2 separate regions of the Homo sapiens genome follow, and region 2 is linked to region 1. A link means that fine-mapping ties the variant in region 1 to the expression of a gene that starts in the linked region. Tissue or cell type: whole blood. Region 1 holds a variant in brackets; the other region holds the start of a gene. All regions are shown on one strand. Distances are between the middles of the regions.

Evidence for each region. PIP is the estimated chance that this variant, and not a neighbour inherited with it, causes the effect.
Region 2: LGALS4 starts here. The variant in region 1 is fine-mapped to the expression of LGALS4 in whole blood (TwinsUK, PIP 0.95).

The regions. Positions count from the first base shown.
Region 1 is chr19:39,161,410-39,169,509 of GRCh38, reverse strand. PAK4 (p21 (RAC1) activated kinase 4) reads right to left here. Exons shown (of 10, transcript NM_005884.5): 2 at 1,208-1,280. Among named protein-coding and RNA genes, the nearest start is that of PAK4-AS1, 29 kb to the right of the region's middle. The variant A/TTATTTA (reference allele first, on the strand shown) is at 3,954.
Region 2 is chr19:38,809,340-38,817,439 of GRCh38, reverse strand. It overlaps LGALS4 (galectin 4), which reads left to right and starts at 4,495. Exons shown (of 10, transcript NM_006149.4): 1 at 4,495-4,598; 2 at 4,921-5,009. The coding sequence starts at 4,554. It overlaps ECH1 (enoyl-CoA hydratase 1), which reads left to right. Exons shown (of 10, transcript NM_001398.3): 5 at 76-124; 6 at 311-375; 7 at 917-987; 8 at 1,085-1,156; 9 at 1,433-1,583; 10 at 1,723-2,018. The coding sequence ends at 1,827. RefSeq lists a silencer at 1,485-1,685.

The DNA of each region.
Region 1 (8,100 bases):
GTGAGTGAGAGCCTGCCCATGTCTCTTCCTCCTCTGCCCCTGCTCTGTCCCTCCCATCCTCATCTTACACCGGGACCAACAGGAGGCAGTAGCCTCCTTCTGGGTCTCCCTGCCCACCCCCTGCGCCCATCTGTGTGGCACACACAGCCAGAGGGTACCCGTGAGCACCCGAGCGGTCACGTCCCTCTGCTCAGAACTTTCCTGCCGCTCTGTCTCCTGCGGGCCCACAAGGCCCCATCACCTCTCTGTTCTCACCCCCCCTGGAGACCTCAGAGCCTTTGCACGGGCTGGCCCCTCTGCCAGGAGCTCACTTCCCAGTGTCTGCACAGGGCTCCCCGTCCCCTCCTTCAGTTCTCAGAGCAGCAGTGACTCCTTTCCTGACCACCCCAAGGCAAAGAGCCCCGTGTCCCGCCGTCCCCCCGCTCTACATCACAGTCACAGCCCGGAACTCATGGAAATCCTGTTTGTTGTTCCTTCTTAGGTTCATGAGTGCAGCATCCACACCGCACCGCTAGAGTGTCAGTGCCACATTCTGGCTGGGTCTCGTCTGCCCCGCTTCCCCACATCCCCTGCTATGCCTGGTACATGGTGTGTACTGGATGGACGGTCACTGATGGCCTGGCCACTGCCACTGGTCCAGCCATGAGTCTGGGCTGGGGACGCCCACACCTTTGGATATTGACTCAGCACAGGGTTACTGATCCCCTGGGTTAAGAGGGCACCCCAGGCAGCCTTGTCGCGACACTCCCCTATCTTTAGGATCTGTGGTCTTCAATCGGGCCCTTGACACAGTACCAAGCACAGAGCAAATGGTCGACCAAAGCCACTTTAAAAAACAAAGGGGCTGAGGAAGAGACATTCTGATGGCGGCATCCCATAGAGAGCCTGGAGAAAGATGGGAGGGGGAGCCAAGAGGCCAGAGTTCGACTCTCCATCACATGCTGCCGTGACCTTGGGCAGGTGACAACCTCTCTGTGCTGTGGATGAACCCCCACAGGGCTGCTGCGAGGGGTAATGGGTGACTGGGAGCAAAGAGCTTGGTGCAGGGCTGGGCAAATATGGGGGGCCTATCGGTGGGGACCACTGTGATGGCTGGGGCGGCTCCCACAGTGCCTGTGGGAGGAGGGGCCCAGGTCCTGCTCCCCCCTAAGGCCCCACCCCAGCTGCCCCGGGCCTGGGCCCTGGAGTCGCACACACCTGCACACACCTGGTCTGATGCTGGTGGGACAGAAGTGCCCTCAGGCAGGTGACCACTCCTCTAGGGGCTTCGGGTTACTCATCTGTAAAATGAGAGGAATGCATCCATTCACTCACTCATTCATTCATTCATTTGGGAATAACTCAGCAATGGGCCTCCTCTGTGGCCACTGCAGTGACCCAGACAGCCTTTGACCTCATGGGAAATTCGTGTGGGGCAGACAGACCTGTCCCCATGCAGCAGCTGCCCAGGGTGGTCAGGGCTGGGGGACGGGAGCACGGGACCCAGTCTGGAGGGACGCGGGGTGGGCAGCAGGAAGGCTTCCAGGAAGAGGGGAAGAGTTGAGACCAGGGGACGAGGGGACATGCAGGTGGAGTTTCTGTTCTGTCTTGTCCCAGCTGGCTCCCCCGCGCCTGGCACAGCGCGTGGCACAGCAAGTCCTGTAGCCCTAGTGAGAGGACAGAGGACGCGCAGATGCACGTAGCCCCTCCACACCTACTTCTCCTCCCGGCTCAGGCTGCCTTCCTGGGAGCAGCTGGGAAAGGTGAGGCCCTGCCCAGAGCTAGGACCATCCATGGGAGCCAGCCAGGGGAACCGGTTTGGCAGCGGGAGCCCCGTGGGAGGGGGGTGGGGGCCCGGCAGCCAACCTGTCTCAGCTGGTCCCAAGAGGCCAGCGGGTGGTCAGAGCCGGGCCTGGCCAAGGCTCCCAGGGTTGGCCCAGTTTCCCTGCTTGCCCTGGGGCCCAGGATGGAGGGCGGACGGGGGGCCTCCTTTGTCTCTGCCCAGCCCCTTCTCTGAGCCCAATGCTGGCGCCCTGAGTGCTGCCCACCCCTCCCTCGTGGCCTTCCAGCCCAGCCCACCCCTGGTGGCCCTGACCTACTCTCTCATGGCTTTCTAGGCCCAGCTCCCAGGGTCATCCACATACCCCAACAGTCCCCATTTGCCCACTCTGCCTGCTGTCATTCCAGATCTGCGTCCCATGTCCTCCGGCCTCTCCGTCCTCCCAGATGTCCCTCCACCCCCTTTGGCCCCATGCCCAGCCCAGGCCTCTTCATCGTGAACCTGTCGCCCCGCCCCATCCCGCTCCCTCCCCACTGCGGGGCACTAGGCAGTTCCCAGAGCCACGGGAAGAGGATCAGCCATGTGACCCCTCACTAAGCCCGGAGGGCGGACAGCGGGGCAGACCCTGAGGTGGGGGACACCTGGGGACGGGGCAAGAGCAGCCTGGAGGGCGGGCGGCTGGCCCAGCTGGCAGCATGGGGTCTGGGGGATGTCCTCCGACGCCTGGCCTCCTGCCCTCCCACCCATAAACCCCCAAGGGAAGGGGGCAAGGGGCACGCCTCCGGATATTTGCCTGGGGCCACCCCTTCCCTCTGGGCACTGCACAGAGGGCAGGACAAACAGAGGAACTGAACATGTTTATAATGACCAGGCAGGGACCCCACCCTGGGCCGTCCTGTGCAGCTCCAAGCCCTGCCGGCTTCCCCAGCAGGCGCTCCCTTCCCAACAGATGCTCCTGACCTCATGGGGGCCACAGAGGCCGTGCCAGGCCTGGGAAGAGGGAGAAGAGCTAGGCAGAAAGGCTGGGCTTGCCCAGGTGCAGGGAGGGAAGGGTGGGGGCTGGGCTCCCAGGCCAGCTCCAAGCTTGGCAGTCAGGCTGCCTAGGGCTCCAAACCCCAGCAGGGCTGCCACGACTGGCCCTATATGACCTCACTTTCTGTGTCTGTGAACTGGAGCTCTAACCCAACCTGGGGACCTCAATATGTGGCCCTGGGTGAGCAACTCAGCCACGCTGTGCCTCAGTTTCCTCCTCTGTTCAAAGACGGCGATAATAGTAGCTGCTTCGTGGAGTATTTATTTATTTATTTTAAACGGAGTCTTGCTCTGTCGCCCAGGCTGGAGTGCAGTGGTGCGATCTTGGCTCACTGCAACCTCCGCCTCCCGGCTTCAAGCAATTCTCCTGCCTCAGCCTCCCAAGTAGCTGGGATTACAGGCGCCTGCCACCACGCCCAGCTAATTTTTGTATTTTTAGTAGAGATGGGGTTTCACCATGTTGGCCAGGCTGGTCTGACCTCTAGTGATCTGCCTTGGCTTCCCAAAGTGTTAGGATTACAGGCGTGAGCCCTGCGCCTGGCCTTCCTGGAGTTTTTATAAGGAATTACGCAGAACAGAGGGCACGGAGGGCCTGGCCCAGAGACAGTGGTTGGGATCAGAACCAAGGCAAATCACACACACAGTAAGTGCTCAGTAAGTGCCGGTCACCATTCCAATAGCAGCCAGCACTTACTGAGTACCTACTGTATACCAGCCCTCTTCCAGGCACTTTACCCGGAGTCCCACATATGATCCTGGAGGGAGGGGCCATTAATAAGCCCCGGATTACAGACAGGGAAAACAAGGCACAGAGGGGGACCTCATTAACCCAGGTGGCCCAGCTAGGGTGGCAGAGTGGACACCAGACTCCAGGCCTGTCTGCAGAGATTCGCGGGTTCCGGCCCTGCTGTGCGTCTAATCCCGTTCCATCCTCACAAGCATCCTCATCCCAATTCATGAATGGGAAAACTGAGGCCCAGAGAAGGGAAGGCCCTTGTCCAGGGCATGGACAGGAGAAGCAGCCAGTGAGAGGCAGACATGAGAAGCAGCCAGGATTTGAACCTGGGCGGTTGTGTATGGAAGGCACTGAAGGCTGGGCTCTTACCTGCCTGTCCTGCTGCCCTGGAGGGCTGAGGTGACACTGTTGGTTTTGTCTATTATT[A/TTATTTA]TTTTATTTATTTATTTATTTATTTATTTATTTATTTATTTTGAGAGGGAGTCTTGCTCTGTCGCCCAGGCTGGAGTGCAGTGGTGCAATCTCAGCTCACTGCAACCTCCGCCTCCCGGGTTTGCGCCATTCTCCTGCCTCAGCCTCCCCAGTAGCTGGGACTATAGGTGCCCACCACCATGCCCGGCTAATTTTTTTTTTTTTTTTTTTGTATTTTTAGTAGAGATGGGGTTTCACTGTGTTAGGCAGGATGGTCTCGATCTCCTGACCTCATGATCCACCTGCCTCGGCCTTCCAAAATGCTGGGATTACAGGCGTGAGCCACCGCGCCCGGCCTTATTATTATTATTATTATTATTATCATCATCATCATCATCCTCTCAAGGCTGGTCCTGGCCTCCCCTCTCCCTCCGTTCCCATTCTTTCTGTCTACACCCAGACCTTGCCTTTCCTCTCCTGCCTAGTCTCTGCTGAGTGAGGGTCCCTCCCTCCTGTGTGACCTGTCCTGGACCCCACGGGTAGTGGGAGGAAGCACAAAGTGGGCCCCGGGGCCCCCACCTCCCCAATGGCTGTACACCAGCCTTTCCCATGGGCCTGTGCAGCAGGAAAGATGCTTAAAACCAACCCCTCCCACCAAATGTGGCCTGAGGCTCAGCTCGGTACTCCCACCACCATCGCCACCACCACAAGGGACCCATGGCCCAGAGCAGACGCTGACGCTGAGCTCGCAGGCGCCCTCAACCACGGTGGAGTGGCCATTCTGAGCCCCATTTTGCAGCTGTGGAAACAGAGACTCACAAAGGTAAAATCTCTCACTAAGCTCACCGAGCAGAGCTGGGCCTGGAAGCCAGAGTCCTGCCCATTCCAGAGTCCTGCCCACTCCAGAGTTCACAGCCTTAAACCCTTTGCTGGCCCCCAAAATGCCTCCTCGTGGCCTGAGAGTCCCCACAGGATGCGCCCATCACCATGCTGCCCTCCTCTTCTCCCAAGCACCCCTGTACTCACTGTGCCCTGGCCACACAGGTCCCCCTGCTGTTCCTCAAATCCTAGACATGGTTCCACCTCAGGGCCTTTGCATGGGCGAGTGCCCCACCTGGAACTCTCCTCTCACTGATCTCCCACCTTCCCTGACTTCCCAGGCCCGCCTGTGCTCACAAGCCCTGCTCCTGTCCTGTCGCCCTCTACACCTGTCTCTGCTTTATCTTTCCTCAGGGCTCTTACCACATATATGGCGTGCTTGTGTGTGTGTGTATAATTCTTTTTTTTTTTTTTTTTTTTTGAGACAGAGTTTCACTCTTGTTGCCCAGGCTGGAGTGCAATGGCATGATCTTGGCTCACTGCAACCTCCGCCTAGTGGGTTCATGTGCTTCTCCTGCCTCAGCCTCCCAAGAAGCTGGGATTACAGGCGTCCGCCACCATACCCGGCTAATTTATGTATTCTTAGTAGAGATGGGGTTTTACCATGTTGGCCAGGCTGGTCTTGAACTCCTCACCTCAGGTGATCCACCTGCCTCAGCCTCCCAAAGTGTTGGGATTACAGGCGTGAGCCACCGGGCCCAGCCATATGTGTAATTCTTTAGCATCTGCCTCTCCCTTAGAATGTGTCAGCTTCACAGGGCAGGGACTGTCCTCTGTCTTACCCCCTCGTAGCCCAGGGCAGCACACAGTAGGGACTCCGTGGAATGATCGTCCCTGTCCGCTGCATTATTCCCCTGCTCAGAGGCCTTGGACAAGGCCCAGCAGCACCCGGGAAATCTTTCAGATAAGCAGCTGGGACCTGGGGGCAGTAGTCCCAGAGCAGCAGGAAGGTGCAGCCTTCTGCCCCAGCCGGGGCACAGATGCCTCTGAAGTCCAGTATTTGATCCCAGAAATGCAAGCGCATTTTGTATCCTACTCTAAAATGTTTATTTCAAATTTTAAAAAATCTTTTGAATTCTTTAACATGCGGGACAGGCAGCGTTGACCTGGCCTAGCAGACACTTCAGATTTTCCAGTCACCCCCTGCATCCTCTGACCTTTTCTGGGAGGAAAAGGGTCCCACCACCCCCATTCTCCCCCACAAGGTTAACTGGCCCAAATGGAAAAGCAAGATCCACCGTGCGACAAAGCTGTCAGTGTCAGCAGACGTGAGCGTGCAAAAACCCTTACCTCCTGCCCCGCCCCCTCCAGGCTCTGATCAAAGCTGCTGCCCCTGGAAGGGAGGGGGCTGGCCCACCCAGAACACAGGGGCCCAGGGGCAGAGCAGGGGAGGTGGCCAGGACCACAGGCATCCTTTCATCGTTACCAAAATGAAACTCGAATCAGGAAGGGGACCCAGACCGCTCACTGCCTCCAGCCTGCACTCAGCCTTCCACCATTGGGTCCCACTCACCACCCTGCCACAATCTTCACCTACCAGCTCTGGGAGGGCCCCTCCCTGCCTCAGTTTACCTCCTACCTTCTGGCATGTGCTTTGATGGTGGAGGCGCTGGGAGTTTGGCTTCCCGTCCCGGCACAGCAGGCTCCTCGCTGTCCTGAGTCCCCCAAGCCATTCCTGCCTCCAAACCTTGGCTTAGCTCTTGCCCCCATCCTGCACGGCCCCCAACCCTCCTCTAACCACATCTCTCTTCAGGCCTCCCACACTGAGCCTCGTTCCTCCAAGGAGTCCTCAGGTTTGGGACCGACACATCCCCAGAGTCTGCCTTAGCAAACACCTACTCCACCCACAAGTGACCCGATCACACCCACCCACGCATCGACCCACGCACCCGTCCATGTCTACCAAGGGCTGACTCTGCTGGGCCTGGGGCCCATAGCAGTGCACCCAACAGTCAGAAACATCCCTGTCCTCGCAGCACTCACATTCTAGAAGGAAGGAGGCAGTCAATGTATGAGATAAATCAGAAAAACATCTACTAAGTCGGGTGAGAAATGCTGACATAGAAAATAACGCAGCAATCAGAAAGGAGCTGAGGGGAGGGGAGGCTGGAATTCTCAATAAAGTGGTCAAGGCCGGGCACGGTGGTTCACGCCTGTAATCCCAGCACTTTGGGAGGCCAAGGAGGGAGGATCGCTTGAGCCCAGGAGTTCAAGATCAGCTTGGGCAACCTAGTGAGACCCTGTCTCTACCCCAAAAATAAAAAATAAATAAAAATTTAGCCAGGTGTGGTGGTGTGCGCCTGTGGTCCCAGCTACTGAGGAGGCTGAGGCGGGAGAATCACCCGAGCCTGGGAGGTCGAGGCTGCAGTGAGTGATCGTGCCACTGCACTCCAGCCTAGGTGACAGGGTGAGACCTTGTCTCAAAAATAAGAATAACAGGCTGGGTGCAGTGGCTTATGCCTGTAATCCCAGAACTTTTGGAGGCCAAGGCAGGCAGATCACTTGAGGTCAGAAGTTGGAGACCAGCCTGGCCAACATGGTGAAATCCCATCTCCACTAAAAATACAAAAAATTAGCCTGGCGTGGTGGCAGGCGCCTGTAGTCCCAGCTACTTGGGAGGCTGAGGCAGGAGAATCGCTTGAACCTGGGAGGTGGAAGTTGCAGCGAGCCAAGATCGCACCATTGCACTCCAGCCTGGGCGACAGAGTGTGAGACTCCATCTCAAAATAATAATAATAACTATTATTATAAAATAAAGTGGTCAGGCAGGCCTTGCTGAGAAGGGGACACGTGAGCAGGGACCTGCGTGAGGAGGGGAGAGGGAGCCATGTAGGGCTCTGGAGGAAGGGCAGCCCAGGAGGAAGGAACAGCCAGGGCGGTAGGAATTTGCTTGATATGGTCAAGGGACAGCGAGGAGGCCACGTGGCTGGAGCAGGGTGGGCGAGGGGGCAAGTGGAAGGACAGGCCAAGGAGGTAATGGGGCAGATCGTGTGGGGCTTTGGGGGCCACCGGGAGGGCCTGGTCCTTTCCCGAGTGAGACGGAGTTGCAGGGGTCTCTGAGCCCAGGAGGGCCACCGCCTGACTCAGGAGTTCACAGGCTCCCACTGGCTGGGAACAGTCTGTGGGGGCAGAACGGAAAGGGGGACCAGGGAGGAGGAGGCTGTGATGGCCCAGTGGAAATCAAGGGGGCAGGACCTTGTGGGGGCTGCAGAGGGGGCGGCATGAGCAGGTTCTGGGCACACTGTAAAGGTGGAGGTGGCAGGACTGGCCGAGGGCTGCAGCGTGAGCT
Region 2 (8,100 bases), 350 kb after region 1:
GGTCTGGAGGGGATCTTTCTCCATACGCGCCTCCCCTGGGCCAGCCCTGACCCCACTCTTCCTGTTCCCTCTCAGTGCCCCAAGCCCGTGATTGCTGCCGTCCATGGGGGCTGCATTGGCGGAGGTGAGTCTGCGGCTATCCTCCTGCTCGGGTGCTCCCCAGGTGGGGCTGCTGCTCCGATGCCGCGGCCACTGGCATCCAGCCTCAGCTCTGTCATGGGCCAGACTGTGTCCCAAGAGGCAGCCCCACCTCCCGGGAGCCAGGGTTGGTTCTGGTGGTCATTCAGCATCCCTGGCCTCTACCTCCTAGGTGTGGACCTTGTCACCGCCTGTGACATCCGGTACTGTGCCCAGGATGCTTTCTTCCAGGTGAAGGTGAGTCATCCTCCCGAGCTCCTGCTTAGAGCTGGGCAGTGGGGTGAGGTTGGGGGGCCTGGAGTGAGCCTCGAGGGCTTCATGGAAGAGTCGGAGTTGAACCCGACAAAGTAAGACTTGCCCATAGAGGAAGTCAAGAGGTGAAGTTGTGAGTGGGTAAGGTATGAGGTGGGGTTGAGGCTGGCAGGTGTCAGAGGCAGAGATTGCTCCTGGGGCCATACTGGTGAGGGTGGGAGGCAGGATGGAGCCGGGGGATGCAGTAAAGGGGTCTCAGGTAGGGTGAGGAGGGTTCCTCTCTCACAGATGGAGCTGCCCTGAGGGAATGGGAGGGTGCATGAGTGGGAAGGTGGGCTCTATTCTAGGTTGAAGGAACTTGCCTGAGTCAAGAAGCTGCCTGGGCAATGGAATGGGACTTTGGAGGAAGTCACTGGGGTGAAGGTGGGGCGGGACTCTCCAGTAGACATGAAATTTCATGGACGTTGACATTGCGAGGGGCACAGTATTGGGCAGAAACCAAACACTGACCCGATTCCTCCCCCAGGAGGTGGACGTGGGTTTGGCTGCCGATGTAGGAACACTGCAGCGCCTGCCCAAGGTCATCGGGAACCAGAGGTGGGTGCAGGGGGTGTGGGGGTGTGGGCAGGAGACCCCAGAGCATCTCCCAGCCCCGGGGTGGCAGCCGCCTCCTGATGCACGCTTGCCTTTGCAGCCTGGTCAACGAGCTGGCCTTCACCGCCCGCAAGATGATGGCTGACGAGGCCCTGGGCAGTGGGCTGGTCAGGTAGGGCCATGGCCGTGGTAGCTCAGTGCTGGGGGCAGCCAGGCCTGGAGGGTTGGAGGCCTCTCCGGGTCCCCTTGTCTCCTCGCTCTAGAATTCCTAGTGGCATCCTTTCTTGGTGAGCTCATTTCTTTATTGTGGGGTCAGCCCCCTGCTCTGATTGGGCTGTTTCTCTGGGGTCTTGGGCCTTCCTCTGTGAGTGGCCACTTCTTCATCTGCGGGAGGCTGGAGGAGAGAGCCCTTCCCAGCCCACCCGGTCCCTGATCTCTTTCACTGCAGCCGGGTGTTCCCAGACAAAGAGGTCATGCTGGATGCTGCCTTAGCGCTGGCGGCCGAGATTTCCAGCAAGAGCCCCGTGGCGGTGCAGAGCACCAAGGTCAACCTGCTGTATTCCCGCGACCATTCGGTGGCCGAGAGCCTCAACTACGTGGTAAGGTGCACGCTCCGACCAATCACAGCCCTCCTCTAACCCCAGGCGACCAACCAGGGTGCAGGGTGCTCTCATGCTTTATCCTGATTGGCCCCTGCTAATCTCTCTCCTCGTTCTCTCTCAACACCCTCGGTACCAGGCGTCCTGGAACATGAGCATGCTGCAGACCCAAGACCTCGTGAAGTCGGTCCAGGCCACGACTGAGAACAAGGAACTGAAAACCGTCACCTTCTCCAAGCTCTGAGAGCCCTCGCGTCCCAGGCCCCAGCCAGGGGGCCGGCCTTGTCCCGCCTCATCCACAGAAAGGGAGGATGGGCGATGACAGTTGTTTCTATGCCTTCTGACCCAGTTTCCCAGTTTATAACTTTATGACAATGAGTTTCTCAAGCCCAAGGCCTTATCTTCACCCCACAAACAATAAAGCAAAGTAAAGAACCTGGTGCCCTTCTTGGATAGAGGAGAGGTGGGAGGGGCTGGGATGCACCTAGGGGCTCCAGAGACTGCAGTCCTGAAGGCTGGGGCTAGAGGTTGGATGCATGGGAATGGGTGGCATGGAGGTGATGGCCATTCAGACTGGCAGCGGGCAGGCGAGGGGCACAAGGAATTCCGGGGCGGAGGGAGTGAGCAAAAGTCGCTGGGGTCCCTCTGGGTTGCAAGGCTTCCTGGTCTCCCTGCCTGCCCTGGGGTTGAGGGTGGCGTTCGTGCCCTGCCTGGCACCTCTCACTGCACAGCACATGGGATCTGATGCTGGCGTCTCACACCTGTAATCCCAGCACTTTTGGAGGCTGACGCAGGTGGATTGCCTGAGCTCAGGAGTTTGCAACCAGCCTAGTCAACATGTTGAAACCCAGTCTCTACTAAAAATACAAAAATTAGCTAGGTGTGGTGGCAGGTGCCTCTAGTCCCAGCTACTCGGGAGGCTGAGGCAGGAGAATCCTTGAACCCAGGAGGTGAGTTTGCAGTGAGCTGAGATCATGCTGCTGCAGTCCAGCCTGGGTGACAGAGTGAGACTCTGTCTCAAAAAAAGAAAAAACAAAACAAAAAAGGACTTTGGGGTTTCTGGCCGGGTGCAGTGGCTCATGCCTGTAATTCCAGCACTTTGGGAGGTTGAGGCAGGTGGATCACTTGAGGTCAGGAGTTTGAGACCAGCCTGGCCAACATGGCAAAACCTGGTCTCTACTAAAAATACAAAAATTAGCCAGGCGTGGAGTAAGCCTGTAATCCCAGCTATTCAGAAGGCTGAGGCAGGAGAATCCCTTGAACCTGGGAGGTGGAGGTTGCAGTGAGCTGAGATGGTGCCACTGCACTGCAGCCTGGGTGATAGAGCAAGACTCTGTCTCAAAAATGAGCAAACAAAACTTTGGGATTTTTTATCCATATATCATCCCAATCTTCCGGATTTATGTTTGGAATGACTGCAAGAGACCAAGCATTAAGTTAATGACTTCTATATGCTATGTCCTGTTCTGAGCATTTATTATCTTAATGATCAAGGACTCTATGAAGTTGATACTATTATGATTATTATTATTATGACTATTATTGTTGCTATTTTTAGAGACGGACTCTTAGTCTGTCACCCAGGCTGGAGTGCAGTGGCATGATCATAGCTCACTGTAACCTTAACTCCTGGGTTCAAGCGATCCTCCTGCCTCAGCCTCTGAGTAGCTAGGAATACAGATGTGTGCTACCATGCCCAGCTAATTTTTATTTTATTTTTGTAGAGATGGGGGTCTCACTATGTTGCCCAGGCTGGTCTTGAACTCCTGGGCTCAAGCAGTCCTCCTGCTTCAGCTTCCCAAATTGCTGGGATTGTAGGCACAAGCCACCACACCCAGCCTAAGGTTGATACTACTCTTTTCTTTATTTATTTATTTTTCTGAGTGGCAGTTGGACCCACAGCTAGAACTTATTTGGCAGATTAATAACATACAGGCATTACTGGATCACAAATTCATTTTTAAAATATTTTGATAGCTATTCAATACTTGTTTCCTCTCTTATGAATTCCTTTTTTTTTTTTTTTTTTTTTGAAACAGAGTCTCCATCTGTCATCCAAGCTGGAGTGCAGTGGCGTGACCTTGGCTCACTGCACTCTCCTCCACTCAGGTTCAAGTGATTCTCCTGCCTCAGCCTCCAAGTAGATGGGATTATAGGCACCCACCACCATGCCTGGCTAATTTTTGTATTTTTAGTAGAGACTGGGATTTTGCCAGGCTGGTCTCGAACTCCTGCCCTCAGGTGATCCATCCACCTCGGCCAGTCAAAGTGCTGGGATTACAGGCATGAGCCACTGCACCCAGCCGATACTACTATATCCCCATTTTACAGATGAGCACATGGGCAAATTGAGGGTAAGGCACTGACCCATGATCATACAGCTGAGAAGTGGCAAAGGCAGGATTTGAACCTAGAACCTCTGGCTCCACACACTAGTAATCTAAACCACTCTCCCTACAATACAACATACGTGGTAAAGATGTGTGGTGGGCACGCAATCAACGTAGGTCCCTTCACAGTTGCTGGGAGAGGCAGGAATTTGCAGTTCCTCCGCGTTCTCCTCCTCCGCTGCCCACCTGTCCTGGGTCATTCCTGCAGCCTGCCCTGCCCTGCCTGGTCTCACCCTCCCTCTGCCAACAGAAGTCTGGGCAGGGTTTTATGGGCTCTGATAAGGCCCTGGCAGGGCCGAAGTTCATGAGCACTTCCTCTTTGCAGGAGGGCGTAGGGGAGGGGACCCAGGTGATTTGGGTCCTGGCTGGTCACCAGGGAAGCTGGCAAGGGAAGGGAGACTAGGGTGCGCTCTAGGAGAAGCCGACAGCCTGAGAGTCCCAGAAGAGGAGCCCTGTGGACCCTCCCCTGCCAGCCACTCCCTTACCCTGGGTATAAGAGCCACCACCGCCTGCCATCCGCCACCATCTCCCACTCCTGCAGCTCTTCTCACAGGACCAGCCACTAGCGCAGCCTCGAGCGATGGCCTATGTCCCCGCACCGGGCTACCAGCCCACCTACAACCCGGTGAGATGCCAGCTCAGGCCCCACTCCGCCCGCAGCTCCGTCCATAAGCCCTCACACCAATTTTCCCCACTCTGATCCTGGGGGGCCCCATCTGACTCTGTGGTCTGATTTACCCAAAGCTGACCCCGACCCTCGATTTACTCCTACCCTGACCTCAGGCTGTCTGTGTCCACGTCTAACTGTTGGCCCTCGTCATCTTCAACCTGGTCCTCCCCCATGGTTTCCTCTCTCCTGCTTAAGGGACTGGGGGGCTTTTCTGGGAGGGGTAAAGGCTGCAACAGGCAGATGGCTTGTGAGTCCCCTCACCAGGCCTCTTCTCCAGACGCTGCCTTACTACCAGCCCATCCCGGGCGGGCTCAACGTGGGAATGTCTGTTTACATCCAAGGAGTGGCCAGCGAGCACATGAAGCGGTAAGACCCTCCCCAAGCCAGGCCGGGCTGGCAGGGGACTTCCAACTGGGTGCTCTGGGCCTGGCTGTTGGGGGCTTTCTGCCCTTACCCCACCCTGGTGGAGAGGGGACTCTTTTTCTGCCCCACCCAATAGCCAGAGATGAATCTGGGGCAGATCAGGAGTGGGGACGTGGGGGCCAGAAGGTTCAGGGAGGGCTCACCGTGAGAGGCAGTCCCTGAGTTGGACATTAGACTGAAGCTGATGGGTGCAATGGCAGGAATTCAGATCACAGGCTCAGAGCCGGGTCCCCGAGTTAAAATCCCAGCTCTGCCACTCCCCAGCTCTGTGTTGGTGAAAGAGTGAAAGTGACTATACCTCTCTGTGCTTCATTTTCTTTTCTTTTCTGTTTTTGTTTTTTTTGTTTTTTTTTTTGTTTTGAGATGGAGTTTTGCTCTTGTCGCCCAGGCTGGAGTGCAATGGCATGATCTTGGCTCACTGCAACCTCTGTCTCCCAGGTTCAAGCGATTCTCCTGCCTCAGCCTCTTGAGTAGCTGGGATTACAGGCATGTGCCAGCACACTGGCTAATTTTTGTATTTTTAGTAGAGATGGGGTTTCACCATGTTGGTCAGGCTGGTCTCGAACTCCTGACCTCAAGTGATCCTCCCATCTCGGCCTCCCAAAGTGCTGGGATTACAGGCGTGAGCCACTGCGCCTGGCCCAGTCTTAGCTTTTTAAAAAGGGCCTTAACACGTTGATAATGATTGGCCTCATAGGACTTTTTTTTTCCTTAGAGATAGGGTCTTGCTCTGTTGCCCAAGCTGGAGTGCAGTGGCACAATATTATAGCTCACTTCGGCCTCCAACTCCTGGGCTAAAGTGATCCTCCTACCTCATCTTTCCAAGCAGATGGGACTACAGACATGTGCCACCATGCCCAACTAATTTAATTTTTAATTTTTATTTATTATTATTATTTGTTTTGTAGAGACAAAGTCTTGTTATGTTGCCCAGGCTGGTCTTGAACTCCTGTGCTCAAGCGATCCTCTAGCCTCGGCCTCCTAAAGTGCTGGGAGGATCAGGCACTGGTATGAGCCACTCTGCCCAGCCTGTTGTTTATTTATTTATTGTTTACTTCTTCACTGAGTGCCTATTCTGTGTCCTGGCACTAGGGATGGAGGAGTGAACAGGACAGAGACCCCTGCCCTCGTGGAGCTGATGTCCTAGTAGGGGAAACATAAAAAATAAGTCCAGGCCGGGCGCGGTAGCTCAGGCCTGTAATCCCAGCACTTTAGGAGGCCTAGGCAGGCAGATCACCTGAGATCGGGAGTTCAAGACCAGCCTGACCAAAATGGAGAAACCCTGTCTCTACTAAAAATACAAAATTACCAGGGCGTGGTGGCGCATGCCTGTAATCCCAGCTACTCAGGAGGCTGAGGCAGGAGAATCACTTGAACCTGGGAAGTGGAGGTTTCGGTGAGCCGAGATCGTGCCATTGCACTACAGCCTGGGCAACAAGAGTGAGACTCTGTCTCAAAAAAAAAAAAAAAAAAAGTCAAATATGTAAGATGTCAGATGATATTAAGTGCTATGAAGAAAATGAGGAGGGAAGGGAGATGGGGAGTGTATGTGCGGACAGAGGTTCCCTTTAAATTGTCCCCTTAAATAGGGTGGCCTGGCCGGGCATGGTGGCTTACGCCTGTAATCCCAGCACTTTGGGTGGCTAAGCCAGGCAGATCACCTGAGGTCAGGAGCTCGAGACTAGCCTGGCCAAAATGGCAAAATCGCATCTGGCTGGGCGTGGTGGCTCACGTCTGTAATCCCAGCACTTTGGGAGGCAGAGACGGGCGGATCACGAGGTCAGGAGATCGAGACCATCCTGGCTAACACAGTGAAACCCCGTCTCTACTAAAAATACAAAAAATTAGCTGGGCATGGTGGCGGGTGCCTGTAGTCCCAGCTACTCGGGAGGCTGAGGCAGGAGAATGGCGTGAAACCAGGAGGCGGAGCTTGCAGTGAGCCAAGATTGCGCCACTGCACTCCAGCCTGGGCGAAAGAGCGAGACTCCATCTCAAAAAAAAAAAAAAAAAAAAAAAAAAGGCGAAATCTCATCTCTGCTGAAAATACAAAATTAGCCAGGCATGGTGACAGGTGCCTGTAATCCCAGCTACTTGAGAGCCTGATGTGGGAGAATCACTTGAATCCTGAAGGCAGAGTTTGCAGTGAGCTGAGATCGCATCACTGCACTCCAGCCTAGGTGACAAAGGGAGACTGTCTCAAAAAAATTAAAAAGGTGGCCAGAGAAGGCCTGCCTGGGAAGGGAACATATCAGCAAAGAACAGAAGGAACGGAGAGAGGGATCCCCAGGGACAGCTGAGGGAAGGGCCTTCCAGGCAGAGGGAACAGCCAGTGCAAAGGCCCTGAGACAGGCCTGTCCTGGGGAGTAATTTCAAGGATGCTGGTGTGCCCAGGGGTGCGGAATATGATGCGTCATGGGTGTACACAGGGACCCTCTGGCTGCATGAGGGAAATGATCTTCAGGGCCAGGAGGGGAGCAGGGAGACCCAAAGTGCATAGGACAGGGCCTGGCCCGTGGCAGACTTGTAACAGTCATAACTGGAAGTTGGGAAGAGGGTGGAGGAGGTGGTCTAAGAAGGCAAGGTGGGCTGGGTACAGCAACTCACACCTGTAATCCCAGCACTCTGAGAGGCCGAGGTGGTAGGATTGCTTGAGCCCGGGAGTTTGAGACCAGCCTCGGCAACATAGTGAGACCCCATCTCTACAAAAAAAAAAAAAAAAAAAAAAAAAAGCCAGGCATAGTGGCATGCACCTGTAGTCCCAGCTACTAGGGAGGCTGAGGCAGGAGAATCAGTTGACCCAGGAGGTTGAGGCTGCAGTGAGCCACCATCGTGGCCACTGTACTCCAGCCTGGGGGACAGGGTGAGAACACAAGACCCTGTCTCAAGAAAAAAAATGTCAGGCACGGTGTCTCACACCTGTAATCCCAGCACTTTGGGAAGCCGAGGCAGGTGGATCACCTGAGGTCAGGAGTTTGAGATCAGCCTGGCCAACATGGTGAAACCCTGTCTCTACTAAAAATACAAAAATTAGCCG